Linked DNA regions of Homo sapiens: all the other regions are linked to region 1. Evidence: fine-mapped expression QTL. A gene starts in region 1. Each other region holds a variant in brackets. All regions are shown on one strand. Distances are from middle to middle.

What was found. PIP is the estimated chance that this variant, and not a neighbour inherited with it, causes the effect.
Region 2: its variant is fine-mapped to the expression of UBE2E3 in whole blood (TOPMed, PIP above 0.99).
Region 3: its variant is fine-mapped to the expression of UBE2E3 in whole blood (TOPMed, PIP above 0.99).

The regions. Positions count from the first base shown.
Region 1 is chr2:180,976,108-180,984,291 of GRCh38, reverse strand. UBE2E3 (ubiquitin conjugating enzyme E2 E3) reads right to left here and starts at 3,687. Exons shown (of 6, transcript NM_006357.4): 1 at 3,319-3,687; 2 at 2,056-2,274; 3 at 199-249. The coding sequence starts at 2,249. UBE2E3-DT (UBE2E3 divergent transcript) reads left to right here and starts at 3,280. Exons shown (of 2, transcript NR_187176.1): 1 at 3,280-4,226; 2 at 4,626-6,962. RefSeq lists a silencer at 3,410-4,269.
Region 2 is chr2:180,555,336-180,563,519 of GRCh38, reverse strand. No RefSeq gene overlaps it. Among named protein-coding and RNA genes, the nearest start is that of SCHLAP1, 130 kb to the left of the region's middle. The variant G/A (reference allele first, on the strand shown) is at 3,247.
Region 3 is chr2:180,440,812-180,448,995 of GRCh38, reverse strand. No RefSeq gene overlaps it. Among named protein-coding and RNA genes, the nearest start is that of SCHLAP1, 250 kb to the left of the region's middle. The variant TTTACCAC/C (reference allele first, on the strand shown) is at 4,972.

The DNA.
Region 1 (8,184 bases):
ACAATGTATACTTATGCTAAAAAGTATTTTTTCTCCCAATTTTATCTAGTTCACCTTCTACAATTTTTGTTTAATGCACTTGCAAAGCTGTAAAGAAGCAAATGTTGTCTCCTCTGCTGCACACATATCCAGACAATACATCAATCTCTTGGTATTTTTCCACAATTTGAAACCAAAACAACAAAATTCATTTCTTACCTGCAATTAGGAGGAGGATCAAGGGTTATTTCAGCTAGCTCCTTCTGAATTCTGTTAGTGAAATGAGAAGAGACAAAAAGGATTTGATATAGTCTACAGAATAACCAGGGAATTACACTGCCCTCTACCACCATGCAGTTAAATGCAAGGCTGGCTCTGCCTTCAGTAATGCTAACATGGCTGCTTCCTCTTTGTTCTCAGAGGCATAACCCAAATCCCTTAACAGAAACTTTGCAGCTTTTTTTCTCACTTGCTGCTGCAAACAAGTAAGTCATTTACACTTGATTGGAGAAATACTCATCCACTAGTACTCAGTAAAGAATATAATATCTATTTCAAAACACTTTTTACCAAAGAAATTCTCTTTTCAAGCTTATATGCAAATGAGACAAAAAGGGAGGAGGGAAAGCACTGGAATATTTGACAAGGACTTGAAGTGACTTTTACTGAGGTAAAAATTAACAGGCTACTGCAAGAGCACATTAACAGTTCTGACAATATTTTATCTGTCAAAAAAAAAGTTTAAAATTTACAAATATCTTTACTTGTGAAAAACTTTCAAAGACTACTTGACATTCTAATTTAACCATTTCTGTTTTCCCTGATTTTAGGTACAGCACTTAAATTTAATAAACATTGAGAGAAAGAGGAGAAAATACATAGGCCTGAGTTAAGGGGGAGAAAAGCAGTTCTCTGATTTGATTCAAATTTAAGATGATTTCAAAACTTTAGATGTGTCTAATATGTTCCGCATCAACACTATACCAAATTGAGAATTTTAAATTATGTCAAAGACTGCTGCCATTCAAAAATATTATCAAGTTATTAATACTTCATTACTGAGACAATAAGGGTGAAAATCCATAGAAAAATATGAGTATTTATGAATCACCACAGAATGCAATATTTGATCAGTTTTTATATTCTTTTTCCTTTAGTTATCAATAAAAATTAACAAAATGTCAAAATTGGTTAATGCTGTAAACATTATACATTTTATGTATAATTACTAGAGTTTGTGGATATTCCACTACTACTACCACTGATAAGAGTCTCATTGACAGAATCTTTTTTTCTCCATCAGAAAACATCAATCAATAGGAAACAAATGATCTTTCACTTACATCCAATTAAATATGTTTCTCCTGCTGTTGAGTATTAACTTGTCAAGCACATCCACAAGTTTCAGAGTGAAGAGGCCCAAGGACAATGCAAGTTTTCTATCACTAGTGACACCTCAAATTGTAAAGGGCTACTTTTCAGTTTGATTTGCCCTCACAAGCACAGGAAGGGATAATCATAATTTAACCAGGAAAGTTACCTGTGATATACGATTGAAAGTCATGTTTTGTAAAACTGTAAGCAGATTTGCAGCACAATTTTAAATCTGCTTTCAAATATAGCAAAGGCCTGAATTTGCAAATTTTCTAGCAAATATGATCATTTCTGATCATTAAGTTTCATGAAGAGAGGCACTGCTAATCTCTGGAAGTGTCAATTTCATTAAAGAAGATTATGACTCATAAAAGGAACATCCCCAAAGTACCATCTAATTTGGGTTCACCAAATTTTCCTTGCCAACTCCTTAAACAATCTGTCAGAATGTTAGTCTAATCTCTACTCAAGGACACTCTTAACTGAAGTTACCGAAGTACAGAATTAAGTTTGCTTAAAAGTATAATTCTAGTAATGTTGCTTACATACCACCTAAAGAATGACAACTCATTCAAGTACAATTAAACTGATAATGAAGTAAATATTTCTGAACTACTGCTATTGAGGTAAAACCAACAAAAGCGTCCAACCACCTGGAAGACAACCTGACAAAGTGTGCTGGATCCTTCTTTTACACATTACCTTTTAGCACTAGTGGATAACTTAGCAGTGGTTTTGCTAGAGAGTTTGGTGTTTTTCTTCTGCTGGGTGGCAGAAGGTTTTCTTTCCTCTTGTTCTTCAGGCTCTGGAGCGGCTGGGTCTCGCTGGTCCGCATCTGAACTGCCACTGCTGGTGCTGGGGCTCTCATCATCGGACCTTTGCCTATCACTGGACATCTTGGTGAAGTTATCTCTTGGAAAACTTTTAAAGAGAACAGGGGAGGAGGAGGAGAAAATGTTAAATCTAGGAAATAAACCAACAGCATTTTCTTCTAGTCATCTAAAATCGTCTTGTAATGAAAAAGCTTCAAAAGTGTTCACACTTATTTCATCGTACAACAGGGGTACGTACAAGGGAGGTGATGTGTCACACAACGCCAGCGTTAAGGGATTTGCCGAACTCAAGTTAGAAAACCCACTCACATTTTTTTCCGTCTCTTGGACAATCTATCAATTGTCTACTTTCTCAGAAGGCATGAAACAGATTTGCCAAGGAACTTAGGCAACAAGCATTAATAACATATGACACACTGTAAATAACAGATCTCGCTGAAAAATGTTTAAAAGTCACTAATAACGTCTAAATATTTACACACTGACATTGGTCAAAGCTACCAAATTCCCTTTCCGAGAGGAAAACACACCCTGTTAATCGCCCATATGCTTATTTAAGGTGGCGATTCCTCCTCAGTGCACGTAAAGCCTTTAAACACAACACTTGGAAATTTAAAAATCAACTAACGAGCTGCTCTAGCTGTTTCCACGGCCAGCAGCGAAGATTCATCCGGCCAAGACCGAGCTGCCACCCTGGGAAAAGCAGAATTCAAACTGCACCTTCTGCAAAGCTCCCAATGCCACCAAGGTTCCTCGCTCAATTTTTATATCACGGACCGACATTTTGTCCAAAATAACGAAAAAAATAAGAAACCCAGAGAAAAAACAAACAAATAAACAAAGCCCCAAGAAGTGCAACAAATTTCCGCGCCCGCGGAGGCGAGCCACGGCCGGCGGCGGCGGCCACGCAGCTCCGCGGCCCTTTGTGGGGAGGGCCGCGCGGGGGCCGCGGGTAGCGCTCGCCGCGCCGGGCGCCAAGTGATGCGAGCAGCCCAGCCGGCCCCGCCGCGGCTCGCGGACACCGGCGACGCGGGCGCCCGGCGCGAACAAAGCTGCCCGCCCCCGCCCCCTCCCCCACCGCCGCCGCCGCCCCGGCCGCCCCCCACGCGGCCCCCCGGCCCCGCCGCCTTACCTCGGCCGCCCGCCCGGCCCGCTCGCGCGCCGCTACGGTGTGGGGGAGGGAGAGAGAAAAAAACCCTTCCTTAAGGAAATGGAGGCAGCTGTGGGGGGGGGAAGGGGGGGGAGGGAAAAAAAGAAGCCGAGGAGGCTCTGGCCGGGGAGTGTGGAACATTGAAAGTCGGAGGGGGTTGTGCAGTGCCGGGCTCCGGCCGGAGGGTGGCGCCGCCCAGCGCCTTCGGAAAAAAGCGGGGGTGGGAGCTCGGCTGGGCGAGGGCGCGAGCTCCCGGCGAGGCGGAGGGGACGCGGGAGACCCCCGCGCGCTGTAGCCTCCCGCCGCCGCCGCCCGGCTCGGCTCCTCCCGGCCGCGCAGTCAGCAAGTTCCGAGGCGAGCGCGGGGGGGAGGGGCGGGCGCGGCGGCGACGCGCGTGCTCGCTGCTTGCCTGGCGGAGGGGCGCGCGCCGCCGACGCCCGGCGGGCGCGAGCTGTTCCCGCGCGCTCCCGTGCGCGCTCTCCACACCTCCCCTCACCCTGGGGGTGCACGCGTCCGCCCGCGCGCGGCCAGGACAAAGAGCGCGGCGGGGACCCGGCGGGCTGGCCCCTGCCGCCCTTGGCCGCGGAGCCTGTGCCAGAGAAGGCGGGGGCGCGGGCACCGTATCGCGGGGCCGCTGTGCCGCGGGGTGGCTTCCGGCCTGGGCCCGCCTCCGGGGCGAGGCTGCCCATTGGGCTACCCGCGTCCCCAGGGCTGGTTCCATCCCATCCGCCTGCGCGGGGGCCGTCGTGGCTCCCGGGGCCCCAGTACCTGGGCAAGGGCCCTGGGCGCGTGGTTGGGAGTCCCCCGCCGCCCCGGGAGACGGGAGACTAATGGGTGTTGTTGACGAGGCCAGGCACGCAGGCGGAGAAGAGCTGCCACTTGCCCCTCGCGTAAGCTGGAGGAAGGGACAAGTTGGGGTCCTGGGAATTGAAGAGGGTAGAATGTATTTGGAGATTAGGGGAACAACCTCTATTTCTTTTTGGCTCATAGCTTGCAACTGTCGCTGCCAAAGGGAAGTGTCCTTCGGATTATTTGAAACCTTAAAAATCCAAAACAGTGTTTAAAATGTCCCGCTCAACATTCTTAAAAGTGAAGGAGAAGAGTTTGGGGTTGGGGGGTGGCGATGAGAGCTAAAACATGACACTTTTCTGCGGGACTCTTCTGTCTTGCACATGAGGAGCCAGTTCTGGAAAGAAAAGTTCTGAGTGATGTTGAGTCAGAATGTCCACCCAGAAAAGCTTTAGGTGGAGATAGTGACAGTTTTGTTTGTTCTACCATTCTTTTTGCAGTCTCCAGGTGGACTCTGCGGTTTTTACCCCACGGCACAAAGTAGCCAGAATACAAAAACTTCCTGTTTGCCACCCAGGCCTTCTCCAGCTACTGAGAACTTGTTCCGGTGATGGAGCCTCAAAGGAATTTGTGGATTCCTCTCCCACAAGTGTCCAGGGGCAGGGGTGCTGTGAGAATGTGCAGTTCACAAAGGGAGTGAGAATGGCAGTCAAAAGATGTATAGAGTTAAGGGAAAGAAGAAAAGACTGAGTGAGCCAACGTATTTGCTTACTATTTCTCCTAATAGAAAACTTTTGGTAAAGGCTTGATAGCAACTCTAAAGAGTAAGTTACATTTCCATAATTTTCCAAAGACACAGTCATTCAGTTAACTTTATTGAGGGCTATATGTTGCTAGGTGCTGGACATACACTCATTCAATTGCTGTGTGACTAAAGCCAGGTCTCTACTCTGTGCTAAGAGCTCCTAGTCCAGAAGGGGAACAGTTCATTAAAGTTCGCTAGGTTCATAAGTAGTAAGGATATTCCACTCAGAATGAACAGATAGAATATCTCATGCCTCAAAAAAGATCATGGTCTGTGTGTGGACAAGCATTTTGATTTGGCTGGGTCAAAGAGTGCTTGTGGGAAAAGCTTGTTAGTGAAAATAAAAGCAGAATTTTCCCCCAGCTTTACACGATGTGATGTTACAGCAAAAGCCAGCCAATTTGGAGTTGAAGCTTTGCTTTGTTTGGAATGGGGAGACAGAAAAGGAAAGCTGTACGTTAAACATGGGTTCTTTTAGGAAATTTAAGAACAGAAATAGCCTGAAGGCCCAAAGGCCAATTGCTGATAGGATTTAGTGGGGTAAGGAGCTTAGGGGAGAAAGATATTTAGTTGTTTGGTAACATCTTCTACAGAAGAAATAGTATTGGGTTGAAAAGCCAGGGAAGTGTATTCTAATCCTCATTCTACGAAGTTCATATGACCTCAGGCAAGTTAAGTTATTTCAATTACTTTTATGTAAAAGGAGATTGTATCAAAGGTTCTAAGTCCTCTCCTGCTCAAAAATTCCATGATTCCGTGATTCTTTGGCGAACTTGAAGTCATGGAGTTTAACTTAACATTCACCCAACAGAATATTTAGGATCTACTAACTGCTTGGGAAACTGGAGTGAAACATGGGTCATGCTCTTAACCAAGCTCAATTGTGCAGTGGGGCAGCCAGAAACGTAGCCTGCAGAATGAGAAGTGCTGTATTAAAGAAGTAAAGAGAATGAGAAAAGAGCATTACTAATCATCAATTAACTAATAATGGAACTATTAATTCAGGTTGGAATTGTGGGGCATGAGGTAAAGGTCAAAGAAGGAAACATTAGATTGGTCCTGGAGAGAGCACTAGGGCCAGTGATAATGTAGATAATATAGATAATGCTCTTGGCAAAATACCTGGAATTTGGGTGTTCAACAAATAATACCTATTGTTAAAGTCACCGTAAAGATAATGAATGGCTCCATAAGGTTAGGGGCAGTAGTGCCCTGCCCCTACAATGTGAGGTGCCTGGCTGCCTTCATTCAGCTGACTCAAGGGGTTGCTCAAATGATTTCAGCTCACAGCTCCTCTCCCAGGTGACTTGGCATCACCTCCACCAGAAGTAACTTGTAAGGTGTAAATTGTTTCTAATGTTTAGTTCTTCCTTGTGTGACAACCTGTTTTGTAATTATTTTTTCTCTCTTGTTTTTGCTATGTCAATCCTTGAAATTAAGGATCATGTTTCACAGGCACTCTTGGAAGCATACAAATTTGACCTAATGCAATTATTTCATAAAATATAAAAAGGGCCCTTTTCCCATAAGGTCCCTCAGAATAGTTCCACAAGCAGACACCAGCTACCACAAAGAAGATTGTTTCCTCTCAGTCTCTTTTATTTTCTCTTGTTGGTGTGGGGTCCTGCCAGCCTCTCACAACCCTGAGAAGGGCAGTGGTAAGAGGGAAGATGCCGAATCCAATTGCAGTATTACAATGATTATCTCTTATCCCCTTATCCACCAAATGTTGTGACAAAAAGAGGCCTGCCTAAGGGCAAATAAGGCAGACCCCAGAATCCTTTGCACCTCCCTAGTTTGGGAGATGCTTTTTCCTGCGCCTTTCAATGAGTCTCAGTGTTATCTGTGTACATAACTGTGAGTATGTATAACTAAGAATTTCACAGGATCTATCACTGAGTTACCTAAGAAGTTTCTGAATTGAATGATTATGTAAGCTGGGGTATAGACCTCTACTTATCCACCATGACCAGCAGCATCCCTCACATGTAAAAAATGTAGAATAAATATGAATTTATTTTGTTGATTTTAAGGTACTTTGTTTCCTTCCAGTCAATAACTTTTCTAAGAGTCCCTTCATTTTTACTGGCTGTTTCTGATGCTTTCCAGTTACTTGTATCCTCAGTTCTCTGGCTAAGAAATTTTCTTTCTCTACCCATAAAGACTGGATTGGTTTACTAGGAAGGTATTTCTTGGCTCAGCCTTAGTTTACACAGCCTTGTTTGTCATTGTTAGTCCCAGTGTCTTTGGACCCCCAGAATCCAATGTGCCGCTTGACATCTGGGTGCACTTCCACTGCATCCTGAGGGGAAAACCTGCTGTGTCCTACACCAAGGGCTGGGCCCTGGAGTTGGAAAGGTGCATAAGCCTTGGTTTGACGTCAGATAACTCAGTGATTATTTTCTGTATTTCTCTTTTGAGATAACTCTCAGGGAAGGTATATACCAAAAAAGGCTCATGTCATGGTAAGGAGCCTGTACACATGAAACAAAACCGTGAGCACCTTAGTATGTCAAAAGGCAAAAATTTTTAAAGAAATATTTAACATTATAACAAAAATGTAGTCTTGCTAGTTATCCAGAAAGGAAAGTTGAAATGAAATATCTATCAAAATAACAAAAACAATTTTTAGTTATTATAATAATTCCTGGCAAATTGTTTTTTAAAAAATCCCTTTGTCCATTTCTAGTAGGAATGAAAATTGGTACATGTTTCGAAAAGGAATTTGGAAATTTTTTTCAGGAGCCTTAAATGTGGCCATACCCTTTGACCAGATTTCTCCATTTCAAAAGAAATGTACTTCAAGGAAACATTCTAAAAGTGAGAAAAATGATACTGAAAAACTGGAAATGTCCAACAATATGCAAATGATTACACATACTGATTCACCCACATAATTAAATTTGCCATTATTAAAATAACAGTTGTGAAAAGCAAGCTAAAATACAAAAACAGATTATTATAAAATACACTTAAGGTAGAAGTTTGTCTATTTTAGTTACTGGGAAATCAGAGCCTGCCTCAATACCTCTCAAGGTACCGAGCACAAAGTAAATCATCTATAAATATTTGTTGAATGAATATGCATCATATTTTTACAATAAGCAAAACAAAAATGTCTGAAAACAAAAGGTTGACCAGTACCTAGATTTTAGAGTGACTATGAATATGAACAACTTTATTTTCTTTTTACTATATTCAGTGTTTTTCTAGTTTAATGAGCAGGTACTACTTTTATGAGGGGAAAAAAGATG
Region 2 (8,184 bases), 420 kb after region 1:
CCTCATCTTTTGTGCTATTGATTGATGTTATCCATTTTATATTTACATATGATATAAACCCCTAATGCATTTCTACCAGTGTTTTTTAGACATTCAATGATACTTTAGCGTATTTTTGAACGTCTAAAGAAAAGCGATTTAGAGTGATTAAAAATAAAAAGTGTCTTTTTAATTTACTTTCATTTTAACTATTCCTAGAGTTCTTCATTTGCCTGCTTGTGTATAGATTCAAATTTCTGTCTAGTATCATGTTCCTTTGCCTAAAGACATCTTTGTTTTCTGTCTGCTTGTTTTTTGAAATATTTCCTGTGGTGCAGTTCTGCTGATATTAAATTCTTTTACATATGTATATATGTATGTTTGTATGTATGTATTCTGTTGTCTCAAAAACTATTTCACCTTCATTTTTGATAGATATTTTTTAGCATTTCTATTTGACTCTTTTGAATAGTTTTCATTTCTTTGCAAAAGTCCACATCTGTTCATGGCTGTTGACCATGTTTTCCATGAGAAATTATAATTTATTAATAATAATATTTAAAATTTCCTGTCCAATAGTTCCAATATTTGGGCCATTTCTGAGTCGGTGTCTGTTAATTGCTTTATCTCTTTCCAGTGGGCTCTTTTTTCTTACTTGTTTGTGAGCCTTCTATTTCTTCTATTGAATGTCACTCATTGTGAGTAGCTCCAGTAAGGACAGGGAGAAATAATATATGTGCCTGAAAATGGGCATCCCTCTTTGCTAGACCAACAGTGCATGCAGTTGACTCAATCTACTCCATATCTGAGCTGGTTTGAGTTTTGTTGTTCCTATTGTTTCCTTGAGTGTATCACAGACTTTAAATCCTGGAGGGTTATCTTGTGTTTATCTTGGGAGCTGGGTTGCCAGAGCGTTTTGCTGAATGTTTCTACTCCACCCTTGGCTTTCAGCCTTCCCTTTGTGCCTGCACCTCATAGTGGGTGTCTCAATCCTCTTATCGCTGTCACAGAGATAGACATTTGTAGCTTGCGAATTGGGACTTTCTAACCTTATTATAGAAGTGGAAAGGAGTTTCTCTATTGTCCTGCTCCAGCCTCATTCTTAGGCTGGCCTTGTGTCCCTGGGCCTTAGGGATGGAGCTTTGGCAGTCATCCTGCTGCTCACCTCCCTGGCAGGCAAACCCTCTTATATTTTTGGTAGTTCTTGTGTGGGACTTTCTTGCTGCTCCGGTGATAGGGTTGAGCATGGTTTCCTGTTTCCTTAAAAATAAAAGTTTTTTTTTCTTTTACTCTTTCTCAGGCTGTAATGGATCTTAATTTGTGCCCTGAGGTTGACAGGGCTTACTGCTCTCTCTTCAAGGGCTTAAAACTCACAGGAGAAGATGGTTCTGCCAGGGCTTTGTGCCTTTCCTGCAGTGGTGGCCTCTCCCCTCCTCCAAGCCATAAAACAAAGTTCGATTTTTATTGTTTTCCTGCCCTGGCATCAGAGTTTCTCATCAACACTAGTTGTGTTCCATGGAAAAGAGGATGAGTGGGTGCAAATCCCCCTTGTGTTTATGGCTCCATGGATTATATGGTTTTACACCTACCCACAACCAGCCTTTATCAATTCATTAACAAATTCAGTTAATTTTTTATCTATTTGTAACGGCAACTCTTCCTTCCATGCTCTGTGCTTGTGATGGGCTTGTGTCTCATTTTTCCTTGAAGATGCATCCTTTTTATTAGATTTTAGGCTACTTGGTTGCCCTGCATCTTTCGGTCTGTGGTTCAAATAATTACAATTGTATAGTTTATTCAGCTTTTTGTATTGTAGTTGTTAGAATAAAAACAATGCTCTTTTCAGCTTTCAGCATTTTAAATAGGTATGGAGACCCTAGAATATTTTTTTTTCCACAAGATCTCCCTCTGTTGCCCAGGTGGGAGTGCAGTGGTGCAATCTAGGCTCGTTGCAACCTCTGCTTCCTGGGCTCAAAAGATTCACCTGCCTCAGCCTCCTGAATAGCTGGGAATACAGGTGGGTGCCACCATGCCCAGCTAATTTTAGTAGTTTTTGTAGAGATGGGATTTTGCCATGTTGCTCAGGTTGGTCTAGATCTCCTGAGTGGTGATCCACCTGCTTCTGCCCCAAAGTGTTGGGATTAAAGGCTGTGAGCCACCATGCCCAGACCCAGCATACCTTCATGAGTGGAAAAGGATGCTACTAACAGTTATACTGGAAAGCAGTATAAGCAAGCACTGGCCAGGGAAACTGGGAAGCATGGTCATTTTACCTAGGTGGGTCTTTTGTGCTGTGCCCCTGCAGCTCACTTAACTTTTCCTTGTTTCAAATGCCTCGCTCCGCTGGTGAAAATCCTACTCTTCAGTTCATTCTTGATACCACCTCTTCTAAATTGACTTCTCTGATCCGATTTGCCAAACCTTTTCTACAATTTTTGCCTCGGTATTATAAGTGATATGGATTGATCCTCCCTTCCCATCCCCTATAGTTATGGTTTATTATCATGCCTATAAAAATGTATTGAATACATTGATAACCTTTCCTGCTTTGTATATACTCTAGACATTTGTAAATAAAATATAACTTATGTTACTAAAATGTTTGAAATAACTCACCTATGACATGGATATGTTAATTAGCCTAATTTGCTCATTCCACGATATATGCATGCATGGAAGCATCACATTATACCCCATAAAAATATATACAATTATTATTGCTCAATAAAAATAGAATAAAACAAAGAACTGACCTCTGAAACTTTGAGCCAGTCTCTTTAGAGATGAGTAGGATAACTTGCTAATTTTTAAATTGATCTATTTAGTTTTATTATATCATCTTCAACAAGTTTTAGTTAAATGTAAGTCTTTCAAAATTATATGTTTAATCCTGATCATGTTTTTCAACATTGTGTGCCATGTAATATTCAATTATAATTATTTTTATAAACCTTATTTATCTATGACTACTCAGCATTTTTCCTTCAAACTTTCTACACATATTTTCTTATTTTTAAAATTAATTGAGGAGAAAAGCCACCTCTGGTAAGAAAATAATTATCACATATAGTATTTTTGTTTTCTATTCTATTGATGTCTGCTTTAATCCCTATTAATTCCTTCAACCTACTGTGCTTAGGCGTGTTTATTTTTTCTATGTTCTTGAGTTCTTAGTTTTGGTAGGTATATTTTCATTTCTATTTGGTTAATAGAAGCATTTAAGTTACAAATGTTTTTCTAAACACAACTTTGATTATAAGTTTCATC[G/A]CATGGTATTGTTTGCAACTGTATAATTGTACTTTCAGTTTTCTCTTTTGATTAAAAAATTATTTAGCAATTAGTTTTAAAATTCACCTATTTGCTATTTCTGTGTATGCTATTGGCAATAATTCTAATCTTATTACATTTTGTGTTAGGCTGAGATATCCAAGAACAAGATGCCAAGACAGGATTAATGTACAAAGATTTAATTAGAGGACATGCTCGCGTGAAGGGAAACAGGAAGGAAACTGGGCAAAGCTGGGAGAGCTACCATACAGCAATGCAATGCTGACCCTGAGTGAGAGAGGGTGGGAACTGTTGGCAAAGTATCCTAGACTACTACTGTGCAGTTTTGAAGTTTCGACAGCGCTTTTGAGGACTCCTGGAGTCAGTTAGCTGAAAATGTAGTCCTCAATCTCCCAGGCATAAATCTTCCTAACTATAACAACCGCACTCAGCCTTTGTTGTAGAAGGGCTTGTGGGATGCATGGCCTTGGTGCAAATGAGGTGATAGATTTCAAAGTGTAGCATCCCAGACCTCATTCGGTTATGTGCCCTATGCCTGGATTTCTGTGAGGTGAATTCTCATGGCCACCACCCACCTGATCAGAGTGTGTTCTGTACTGATTCGTATGTTTATAAAATTTTTTTAGATTCTCTTTGGGTCTAGTTCAAGTTATATTTTGTAAACTTTCCATGGCATTTATAGTACAATAATTTACGTGTACTATAAAAAGGTAGATAAATGTATGAAATAAATATTATTCATTTTATTATTCAATTCCTTGATTTCATGTTCTACTTTTTATCCATTTGATCTGCCAAAGACTCAGAGAACTTTCTGTTGTTGTTTTACTCATGAAGCTTTATGTATTTATCAGTACTCTTGTCAGGGGAACATAAATGTGAGCTCACAGTTAACCTGTTTGAATAACAAACATTTTTCTTTGCCCCATGGAAAGTTTTTCCATTGAATTCTAACTTTTTTGGTATTAACATTATTAACACATGCTTTCTTTCTATTTATTTTATATTTCTGCTTATCACATTTAAACAATAACTTTGTGTTACTTTCTAGTAGATCTTTAATAAAGAGCATATATTTCAATTCTCCTTTTGGTCTAATATGATGATTATGTTTTTGTAAGTAGAGGAAACTAATCTATTCACATTAATATAATAAACAATAGCTTACTATAGTCATATTAAGTTGTATGTCTTTTCTCATGTTCTGGGGAGAGTGAAGTTTATTCTCTCCTTTGCTATACATGCAAACTTTTTTAGTGATTGTGAAATCACTTCTTCAGTTTTATCAATTTAGTGTTTAGATTCAATTTTAGAAATAGGTTTTTTATTTAATTTTATTTTATTCTAGGTTCCAGGATACATGTGCAGGATGTGCAGATTTGTTACATGGGTAATCATGTGCCATGATGGTTTGCTGCACCTATCAACCCACCAGCTAGGTATTAAGCCCCACATCCTGATATTCCTCTCTCCCCCTGCCCCTGAAAGGACGCCTGTGTTTGTTGTTCCCTTTCCTGTGTCCATATGTTCTAATTGCTCAGTTCCCATTTTTATGTGAGAACATGCAGTGTTTGGTTTTCTGCTCCTGTGTTTGCTGAGGATAACAGCTTCAAGCTCCATCCATCTCCCTGCAAAGGATATGATCTCATTCCTTTTATGGCTGCATAGTATTCTATGGTGCATATGTAACACATTTTCTTTATCCATTCTATCATTGATGGGCATTTGTGTTGATTCCCTGTCTTTGCTTTTGTGAATAGTGCTGCAGTAAACATACACGTGCATGTATCTTTATAGTAGAATAATTTATATTCCTTTGGGTATATACCCAGTAAAGGGATTGCTGGGTCAGATGGTATTTCTGGCTATAGATCTTTGAGGAGTCACTATACTGTCTTCCACAATGGTTGAACTAATTTACATTCCCACCAACAGTGTAAAAGTGTTTCTGTTTCTCCGCAGCCTCACCAGCATCTGTTGTTTCTTGACTTTTTGTAATCGTCATTCTGACTGGTCTAAGATGGTATCTCATTGTGGTTTTGATCTGCATTTCTCTAATGGCCAGTGATGTTGAGCTTTTTTTCATATGTTTGTTTGCCACATAAATGTCTTCTTTCGAGAAGTGTCTGTTCATGTCCTTTGCCCACTTTTTAATGGGGCTGTTCATTTTTTTCTTGTAAATTTGCTTAAATTCCTTATGGATTCTGGATATTAGAACTTTGTCAGATGGATAGAATGCAAAAATTTTCTGTCACATCCACTTGTTCCAGAGCTGATTTCCAGTCCTGAATATCCTTGTTAATTTTCTGTCTCAATGATCTGTCGAGTATTGACAGTGGGGTATTAAAGTCTCCCACTATTATTGTGTGGGAGTCTAAGTCTCTGTGTAGGTCTCTAACAACTTGCTTCATGAATCTGGGTGCTCCTGTATTGGGTTAACTATATTTAGGATAGTTAACTCTTCTTGTTGAATTGATCTCTTTATCATTATGTAATACCCTTCTTTGTCTTTTTTGATCTTTGTTGGTTTAAAGTCTGTTTTGTCAGAAATAAGGAGAGCAGCTCCTGTTTTTTTCTGCTTTCCATTTGCTTGGTAAATTTTCTTTTATCCCTTCATTTTGAGCCTATGTGTATCTTTGCACATGAGATGGGTCTCTTGAATACAGCACACTGATGAGCTTTGACTCTATCCAATCTGCCAGTCTCTGTCTTTTACTTGGTGCATTTAGCTCATTTTTATTTAAGGTTAATATTGTTATGTGTGAATTTGATCCTGTTATCATGATGCTGATTGGTTATTTTGCATACTAGTTGATGCAATTTCTTTACAGTGTCATTGGTCTTTGTATTTCAGTGTGTTTTTGCAGTGGCTGGCTGGTACCAGTTTTTTCCTTTCCATATTTAGTGCTTCATTCAGGAGCTCTTGCAAGGCGGGCCTGGTGGTGAAAAATTCCCTCAGCATTTGCTTGTCTGAAAATGATTTTATTTCTTCTTTGGTTATGAAACTAGATATGAAATTTGCTTGGCTAGATATAAAATTCTGGGTTGGAAATTATTTTCTTTAAGAATGTTAAATATTGGCCCCAAATTTCTTCTGGCTTGTAGGGTTTCTGCTGGGAGATCTGCTGTTAGTCTAATGAGCTTCTCTTTGTAGGTGACCTGTCCTTTCTCTCTGGCTGCCTTAACATTTTTTTTTTCCTTCATTTTGACCTTTGAGAATCTGATGATTATGTGATTGGGGTTGATCTTCCCGTGGAGTATCTTACTGGGATTCTCTGGATTTCCTGAATTTGAATGTTGGCCTGTCTTGCTAGGTTGGGGAAGTTCTCCTGGATGATGTCCTGAAGTGTGCTTTACAACTTGGTTTCATTCTCTCCATCTCTTTCTGGTACCCCAATCAGTCGTAACTTCAGTCTTTTTACATAATCCCATAGTTCTTGGAGGTTTTGTTCATTTATTTTCATTATTTTTTTCTCTGACCTTGTCTGTCGGTCTTATTTCAGCAAGATAGTCTTCAAGCTCTGAAATTCTTTCCTCCACTTGGTCTATTCAGCTATTGATACTTGCGGTTGCATTGTGAAGTTCTCAGGTTGTGTTTTTCACCTCCATCAGGTCATTTGTGTTCCTCTCTCACCTGGCTATTTTGGTTAACAGTTCCTGTAATGTTTTATCATGGTTCTTAGCTTTTTTGCATTGGGTTAGAACATGCTCATGTAGTTCAATGAAGTTCATTATTACCCAGCTTCTGAAGCCTACTTCTGTGAATTCATCCATCTCAGCCTCTGCCCAGTTCTGTGCCCTCGCTGGAGAGGTGTTGTGATCATTTGGAGGAGAAGAGGCGCTGTGGCTTTTTGAGTTTTCAGTGTTTTTTCATTGATTCTTTCTCATCTTCCATGAGTTTACCTAGCTTAGATTTTTGAGGCTGCTGACCTTTGGATGGGGCTCTTGTGAGGACATTTTGTTGATGCTGTTGTTGTTGTTGCTGCTGCTTTCTGTTTGTTTGTTTAACAATCAGGACCCTGTTCCGTAGGACTGCTGTGGTTTGCTGGAGATCCAGTTCAGACCCTATCCCTTCTGCATCTAGAGGTGTTACTAGTGGAGGCTGCAGAACAGCAAAGATGGCAGCCTGCTCCTTCCTCTTGGATCTCTGACCCAGAGTGGCACTGACCTGATGCCAAAGGGAACACTTCTGTATAAGGTGTCTGTCTACCCCTTTTGATGGGGGGCGGGTCTCACCCAGTCAGGAGACAAGGGATCCAGGACCCACTTAACGAAGCACTCTGGCTGCCCATTGGTGGAGAGGGTGCACTGCACTGGGGGAAATTCCGCTCATCCAGACTGCCTGGATTCCTCAGAGCCAGCAGGGGGGAAAGACTAAGTCGGCTGATCTGCAAAAACTGGCTGCTCCTCCCCCTACGGGCTTCGTCCCAGATAATTCAGGGTTCTATCCATAAAGCCCTTGCTGGAGTTGCTGAAATTCCCGCAGGCAGACCCCACCCAGTGAGGAGGCATGGGTTAGGGTCCGGCCTAAAAAGGCAGTCTGGCCACGATCTGCCACAGCCACTGTGCGGAATTCCTCCTGGGTCGAAATTGTCCAGTCTCCACCGTACTGGCAGGGGAAAAAAATGGCAGACTGGAGCCGCAGTGATGGCTGCGCCTCTCCCCCCAGGAGCTGAGTCATCTTAGGCAGCAGGCAGCCGCAGTGAACTCGGTAGTTTTAGGTAGTCTCCGGCCAAATGGCTGCTGAGAGTTTGCATAGCTCTGTCCTTGGGACCCAAGGCCCTGGTGGCGTGAGCTCACTAGGGGGATCTCCTGATCCGGCTGTTGCACAGATCCGTGGAAAAAGCGTGGTTTCCTGGGTCGGGTAGCACAATCACTGACCACCTCTCTTGGCTGGGGGTGGGAGCTCCCCTTTCC
Region 3 (8,184 bases), 540 kb after region 1:
TGTCCTAAAGATCACAATAATCCAATTAGTTAATTAGAAGCAGTTTCCAGCATAAGATCCCAGTCTCTCCTTTGGTTACTTAGTCTGGTGTTTTCCTGATAATGTATACCTAGGTCAGTATATTTTTCTATAAGCCGGTTTTATGATTCTTAAGTAGACCTAGAAGAGCCCAGAAGGCAACTGGAAGGGAAAAGTGAGAGAAAGGAAAAGAAGAGGTAATTACTGTCATGAAACCATTGGAGTTTTATAAGACAAATACAATTTTTGTAAGCATAATTTTTATTGCAAGTGATTTAAACAAAAGAGCAAAAGGACTTTAGTCTTTTCTGCCCCCATAAGCACTCTCTTCATGCATCTATTATAAAATACAGCAAAATACACTATATTTTAAATTCCTATATCTTTCCCTCTATCATGGCAGGGACTTCCCAATAAATTCTATACTCATTGTGGCCAGCTGAACGCCTGACATTTAGTAGACTCCTCAAAAATGATTTTTGAATGAATGATGACTGACCAACTGAATGAATGACCAATCTTAAAGCACCAGTGAATGTTTTTACTGTCTTCACAGAGCTCAGAATAGATCCTTGGAAGCCATTCTGGAAAAGGGCAACTTTCCAAGGATGTTTTCAAAAAGACCAACATATAAGCACGTGTATTTGGTTGACCCTCTTTGCCACCCTAGGATATAAATTAAATCACATCCATTTTAATACTTAAAGTAATTTCTGGAAAACTTTGTATGCCAAAAACAACAACAACAACAACAACAGGACCTCTAGTATCTGCCCCCTTCCCCCCTCCATTCGCCTCTACCTTAACTGGGAGGCTTAATTCGTGTGAAACAACCAGCCCTCCTCTGAAACAGATGTCAGGTGATTATCTGAGGCTATAAAAAGTTTCCCAGAAAGCCAGATTGGGGATGATTTGCCTTTTTTTGGCTGTTAAGAAATGACGGGTTGAAAATTACTTCTAAAAATTGTTTAACAATCTTATTGAGATGTAATTAACTTATACTACAATTCATCCATTTAAAGAGTACGATCCAAAAGTTTTCAGTATATTCACAGATTGTTGTTCTGCATGTTTTAATGCTTTCCTGCCATTGGCTCCAGTAGTAATCTTACTGGCTCATATATCTGCTCAGACCACAGTTGATTCCTTCAGGAAGGAGAATGCAACTTCTTCTGGTAGTATTCAAGGTCAAGGGTACTCCATGCTTAAGCAACATAGCTTAAACCTTCATGCTTTAAGCTTATAAGTCCAATCACTGTTACCACAATACAACACTTGCCCCAGTGCCAAGTTTCCTGAATAGAAGTAAATTCAGGGTTTAAAACAACCATCCCTTAAGATCTGACTATTGAGCTCTGGTTAACAGTCCAGCCTACCTGTAGTATACATGGAAATGTGCTACGCAGATCTCACTTCAGAGAAAGACTGCCCAACTGCAAGAAGTATAGTCAACAGATAGCCTTCATCCGTTAGCTTTTTTAGGATATGCTTTAGCTGCAGAGTTGCCTGGCCCAAGGGTCAACTTTTTGGAGTCAGCCAATATCCAGTCACTGGGCAAAGCAGGGATATAAAGGCCTGGCCATTGTGGCCTGACACAGGAAATTCTGATGTGGACAATACTCACTCTAGAACTTTCTGCAGGGTTGGTGAAGACTTCATCAAGCTGCTTTGCAATTTGGCCCCTTCCTCTTTTCAAAAGTGCTCCTTTCCAATCCTTGTCATAAGTGTTGATCTCTAATAAACATCTGGCATCTCAGACTCCATCTCAGTGGCTCAGGAGTAACAGCTGCTCTCAGCAGTGGTTTGAGAAAGCAGGCAATAAGATTGTTTTGAAGCTAAATCACTCATACCCATGTGGAAGAAGACACCACCACCGTTTGGTGTTTAGCACCAATAGCTTGTGGCATAAAGTGGCAGAGCCGTTGTTAAAACTTCCACTGGAGGTTAATTAGGAGGTTTTACTAGTAGAAAGGAGTACACTGGGCTCAGCCTATCTGGTATTTGATAAATATGGAAGAAATAGTAGCTATAAAGATAATGGAATTGTGTGACTATTTCTAAGTGCCATGGATGCTCTACAGAAAGAAACTATACAGCAAAGGGTAAATGACAGCCAACTGAAATCCTGGCATGAAAGCCAGTGAACCTCTTTGGTTACATAAATACAATGAATTTCTCTTCACGCACAGCAGAGGGAAGAGAAAGTTGAGAACCACACCCAGTACCTAATAGTATAAGTGACTTTATTTCGAAGAAAGTTAAATGTAAAACCACAGCAAGCCTGTTATGTGTGGATGGGGGAAATGTGTGAGTTTTCTGGGAAAACCCCAAAGTTGTTGTGATACCTAGCCAATGTGTACTTATAGAAGCCAGGAGAATTTGCATAGAAGTGAATTCTGGGCCGGGCATGATAGCTCACGCCTGTAATCCTAGCACTTTGGGAGGCCAAGGTGAGCGGATCACGTGGTCTGGAGATCAAGACCATCCTGGCCAACGTGGTGAAACCCCGTCTCTAATAAAAATATAAAAATTAGCTGGGCACAGTGGTGCATGCCTGTAATCCTAGCTACTCGGGAGGCTGAGGCAGGAGAATGGCTTGAACCAGGGAGTCGAGGTGACAGTGAGCCGAGATCACGCCAGTGCACTCCAGCCTGGGCGACAGAGCAAGACACTATCTCAAAAAAAGAAAAAGAAAAAGAAAAGAAGTGGATTCTGAGGATGTTTGATCAAGAAGACCAGAACATTAAATTAGCTAGCAAGCACTTATCGACTTTGGAACGCTTTCTCCAGATGCACCCTAGCAAAGATTCCACTACAGTGTGAATTCACTACTAGGATAACTCCTATAAGCATAGAAAAATGATGATCCATTCTGAGATCAGTTGAAATGTCAGAATTGTCATGGCAGACAGTGAAGAAAAGAAATCAAGGGCTCAGGGAAGTGGGCATCCTGGAATGAATATATCACATAAGGTTGGAAAACCACCACATGATTACATTCCATAGGAAGGCCAAGAAGACACACTATTTGCCAAGGACACAGGAATGCAGTGATAAGAGGTGTACCAGAAAGTTTAATGGTGGCTTTCCTTTTCAAGTCAACGTTGACAATAGGAAAGCTTGTTACATAAATTGGCTTATTGACAGCAACAGGGGTAACAGGACCCCAAAAAACATAAAAGTAGGTAGCAGCATTTAACTTCCGAAACCAAAGGATTGTAATCATTATAACAATTAGGCAGGTCAGGGTTGCACCCAAGAGAACCTGAGCTGAAAAGAGTTATGGAGGTAGTTAATGCAATACAATATCCCAAGTGTCATAGAAATGCATAACCAAAAATGGTACTATCCTAGTTCTCTGGCCCTGTGTCATGTGTGTAGGAGAATTTAGATATCATGTAGAATACCAACTGACCCATTTCACTGGTAACTTTTTATTGGTTGGGCCAGATGAGCAAGCGGTGGCTGGTATACGTGAGGCCTCAATAAGTCATGCGTGCTCTAAAGGGAAGGAAATAAATTTTAGGGACTACCACAACCATAAAATGTTTAGGGGTTCAATGGTTAGAGGTGTAGCAAGACATCCTCTCCAAAGTAACATACAAATTATCATAGCTTGTACATCCACCGTGGATAAAGAAGAACCACACTGGTAGGCTTTTTCCATCTCTGAAATTGGTGCATTCCACATCTATATTCAGAATGATATAAAAGACTGTCAGCCTTAAATGGTGTACAGAGAAGTAAAGAGCTCCACAACAGGTCCAAACTGCTGTGCAGGCAGCCCTCGCACTTGGACCATATGATCTGGCTCGCTCTGTGGTGCAGGCAGTATCAGTGGTGTGAAAAGTTGTCATATGGTAAGTCCAAGTGGAAGAACCACAAAGTAGATCCCCTGAAATTTTAGGGCAAAGTCTTGCCATCTGCAGTGCACAATTATACATCTTTTGAAAAATAATTCCAGGCAGGCTAGTGAGCTGTGGTAAAAATGAAATGCCTGACTATAGTTCACCAAGTGAACATGTGGCCAGAACTGTCCATCATTAGTTAACTCCTGTGAGACCCACCAATTTATAAGTTAGTGTAGACCCAGGAGCAACCCATCATAGTATGAAAGTGACTATGCAAAAACAGGGTTGGAATCAGCCACTGAACCCTTCCCTCAGCTGATTTTTATAGCTGTATGGGGGATCTTGTATGACCCATTGAAGAAGGAAAATACTTCTAAAAAACATATTAGGTATAGTGTACCTGTTCATTAATTTTGGATAAAATTAGTGAAGTTATAATGTATTCAGACTCTTGGGCAATGGTAAAAGGCCTATCTGACTTTTCAGGATTATGGAAGGAAAACAAAGTTTGGGGATGAGGAGGCTGTGTTAGATATATGGGATGTCTATTAGATGGATATATATGGGATGTCTATGAAATGGGCATATGGGAATGGGCATGAAATGGGAATATACATGTCATATGTCAATGCTTACAAAGGAATATCAATCACAGAAGACTCTAATCAACTAAGTACACAAAATAACTCAAGCAGTTGGTGTCAGCCAACCTCTGTATTCAACCTCCCCAGTGTTGACTAAGAGAAAAAATGAATTAAGAGACCACAGTGGCAGAAAAGGAGATTATGCATGTGCCAATGCATGGACTCCCACCTTTGAAGTCCAATTTAGCTGCTGAATTTCTACCCTACCAACACCAGATATCAGTGTGGAGCCCTTGATGCAACACCATTCTTCAAGGAGTCCAACCAGTCGTACAAGCCACCTCCATTATGGAAGTGCCATTCTTTTATGCTCACAGGACTAGATTTAACATGTATTCCAGACATGAATTTGCTTTTTCTGCCCAAAAGCCTTAGTCATCATTCTAGCTGAGGGATTATGAAATTTCTGATCCACTAATATGTAATCTAACACAACACTTCCTCAGACCAGAAGACCA[TTTACCAC/C]ATAGGAAGTGCCACTGTGGGCCCATACCATGACATTCACTGGCTGTATCACAAGCTCTCTCCAGATGCTGCTAGTCTAATAGAGCCTTGGAATGGCTTGCTAAATGAGTAGCTAAAGCCCAAATCAGAGGCAGTGCTCTATGAGGTTGGGGTGCCATTCTCTGGATATGCAGTATTCACACTGAATCAAAGGATTTTGTGCAGCTTTGTGTGTCTGATAAGAATGCAAGGGCTCCAGAACCAAAAAGTAGAAGCAGAAATGGCTCCTGTACTACAGTAAATAAAGATCCTTGAACTTGGTGCTTCCTGTCCCTGCAACGGTGCTTTGTAGAGTTAAAGGCCCTGATCTATAAAAAGGTCACAATTTCACCAGAGGACAAAATAAAAGCTCTGTAGAATTATTAGTATGACTGTTGTCTGGAGATTTGGGGGAAAAAAGGAGTCACCATATCAGCAGGAGTAACTGAGTTAAATCATTAAGGGTTAGGACTGCTGCTATACAGTGGAGACAGTGAGAAATACATGTGACACTCAGATGATTTGGTTGAGTGCCTCACAGTAATCCCTTGCCCAACTGTAAGTGTAAATGGACAGATCCAGCAGTGCAGGCATGAGGAGGACATGGTAACCATAGATCAGACTTCTTGGGGAGGACAGTCTGAGTAATGCTACCAGACACATGACCAAGGACAGCAGACATAGTGCCTGATGGTGCAGGACCTAAAATGACTAGTATAGGAGAAATAAAGTAAATAGCAATATTGGTCCTGAGATCAACCATAGCAGAGCAACTGTAGTTAGTTCTGCTAATTTCCTTCTTTTCTATTTCCCCTAAGGAAAAGTGGCCCACCAGAATCCTGGAGGAGCTGTTACTCAAATATATGTGTATACAAATGACAAAACAGGTAGACTATGACAGATATAGAGATGTGCCACCCAAATCCTCCTTCAAGTAAGGACTTGCTGCCTTGGGGTTGCCTCAACTGATTAGTCATCTACTGCTGCTTACAAGCTATCCCCAGAATTTAGCAGCTTATAAAACAAGAATTTTATCTCAAATTTATGTGCATCATGAATTAGCACATGGCTTCGCTGGTGCCTCTCACTCAAGTCCTGTCCAGGATTGTAGTTCAGCTATCACCTGGGGGCTGCAAGTGTATCTGAAAGGTCTATTGTGTGTGTTGGTGTAGAGGGGCTACTTCCAAGCTTACTGATGTGGTCCCTCAGGTTCTTCACAATGTGAGCCTCTCCAGTGGGCTACCTCACAACATGGCAATTGGCTTCCTCAAACTGAGTGATCCAAGAGAAGGTGTGAGAGGAAGCCTCACCCAAGATCATGGCCTTTTTAGGACATTCTGTGACTGAGACACATTCTGTGACTGAGTAAGCCCTGGCTAGAAAGGCCCAGACACTTCACTCTGGCATGGGTCACTCTGACCAATAATACCTTGAAGCTCCATGACAGGTTGGCCCAAGCATCGTCAGGCATACATGACACTCAAATTCTTCCTCTGGCCAATCCTGCTTCCTCTTTTCTTTGTCTCACAAGAATTGAGCCCTAATTTTGTATTTCAAAGTCTATCTCTGTGTCTGCCCATGGAAAACCCAATCCTTTTCCTTCCTGGATAGTAAAATTCACTAGGGGAGGGGAGTATTTTATTAATTTCCTACCCTGGCTGATTGTTTTCCTTCTGGGAATCTCCAAGTCCTCTGATATGGTTTGACTCTGTGTCCCCACCCAAATCCCATGTCAAATTGTAATCTTCAGTGTTGGAAAAGAGGCCTGGTGGGAGGTGATTGAATCCTTTGGAGTTCCCCCTTTAGAAGGGATGTCCCCTTTGTTGTTTTCATAATAGATTTCCAACCAGATCTGGTTGTTTGAAAGTGTGTAACACCTCCCCCTTCCCTCTCTCTCTCTTTCCTGCTAGCCATGTGAAGATGTACCTGCTTTCCCTTCACCTTCCACCATGATTTTAAGTTTCCTGAGGCCTCCCCAGAAGCAAAAGCCTGTACAGCCCACAAACCATGAGATGATTAAACCTTTTCTAATACTCTACTTCCTCGTCACTGGCCAGATCTAGAAACTAAAGGACAGGAAGGGCCGTTCTCTCCCATACCACAGATGGTCTTGTTCTATTTTTTTCAAGTTGGAGGGTACCTCCTGGCCTTATATGTAATTTGTGTGTGTGTGTATGGAGGTGATAGAGAAATTGGGGAGAAGTGTTCAGAGACTTTCCTGGAATTAAGGAGTCCATGTTACTCTTACTAATTTACCCTAAAGACACAAACAACTTATAGTTTTCTTTTCTTTTAATTTTACCAAACTGACGTACTAAACAAATAATGTTATCATATTAGAGGTTTTCTCATAAAAGTGCATGGAAATTGTTAGGAGGCATATCCAATGAAACAAATAACTTGGTTTTATTTTTGTTTTTGTTAATAATCTAGTGATTAAAAAATTTTTAAATTTGGAATGCACATACTACTTATGTTCCATCTAAAAATATATATTCTTCAATAAAATAAGAATTCTCCAATTCTCTGAAAAGTACACAAATGATCAAACACAGTACATACAATTTAGAAGCAGAAGCATAATAAAAATGCAAATTAATTCAAAGGTCCATAATGAGATCATTTGGCCATATGGCCACTAATGAAGTTTCTAATTGCTAGAACATCAACACCCAAGTCAGAAGGCAAAGAGGAAAAATTCTACTGTCTTTTAATTTCCTTAAAAGATTTTGAATTTTAAGAAATATTTTCCATATCTGAAACATTTTTACACCAAAGTGTATTGAAAACCTTGCACTACATGGAGTTTAAAAAAAAGTTTGAATTGTAAATAATTCTCCATGCTGTAGGATGAATAAAAAATTAAAATGTTTTATCCATAATTTAGCATACAAAATGTATGCCAACAGGGATTCTATAATGAATAAAATTAATTTATTCATTCATCCAAGAGATTAATTAGCATCTATAATGTGCCAGGAACTGTTCTAGGCACTGGAGAGATACAGCAGCAACCAAAACACATATAAACCCCTGTCTTCATAGAGTCTTCATTCTACTCAGGGAGACAGAAAGTGAAATAATACATTTAACAATAATAAAACTAGTACATTAAATAGCAAAAAGTTCTAAAAATAAAAATAAAAGCAGAGGAGTGATATGAAGAGTAGGTATGGAGATATGTAAAT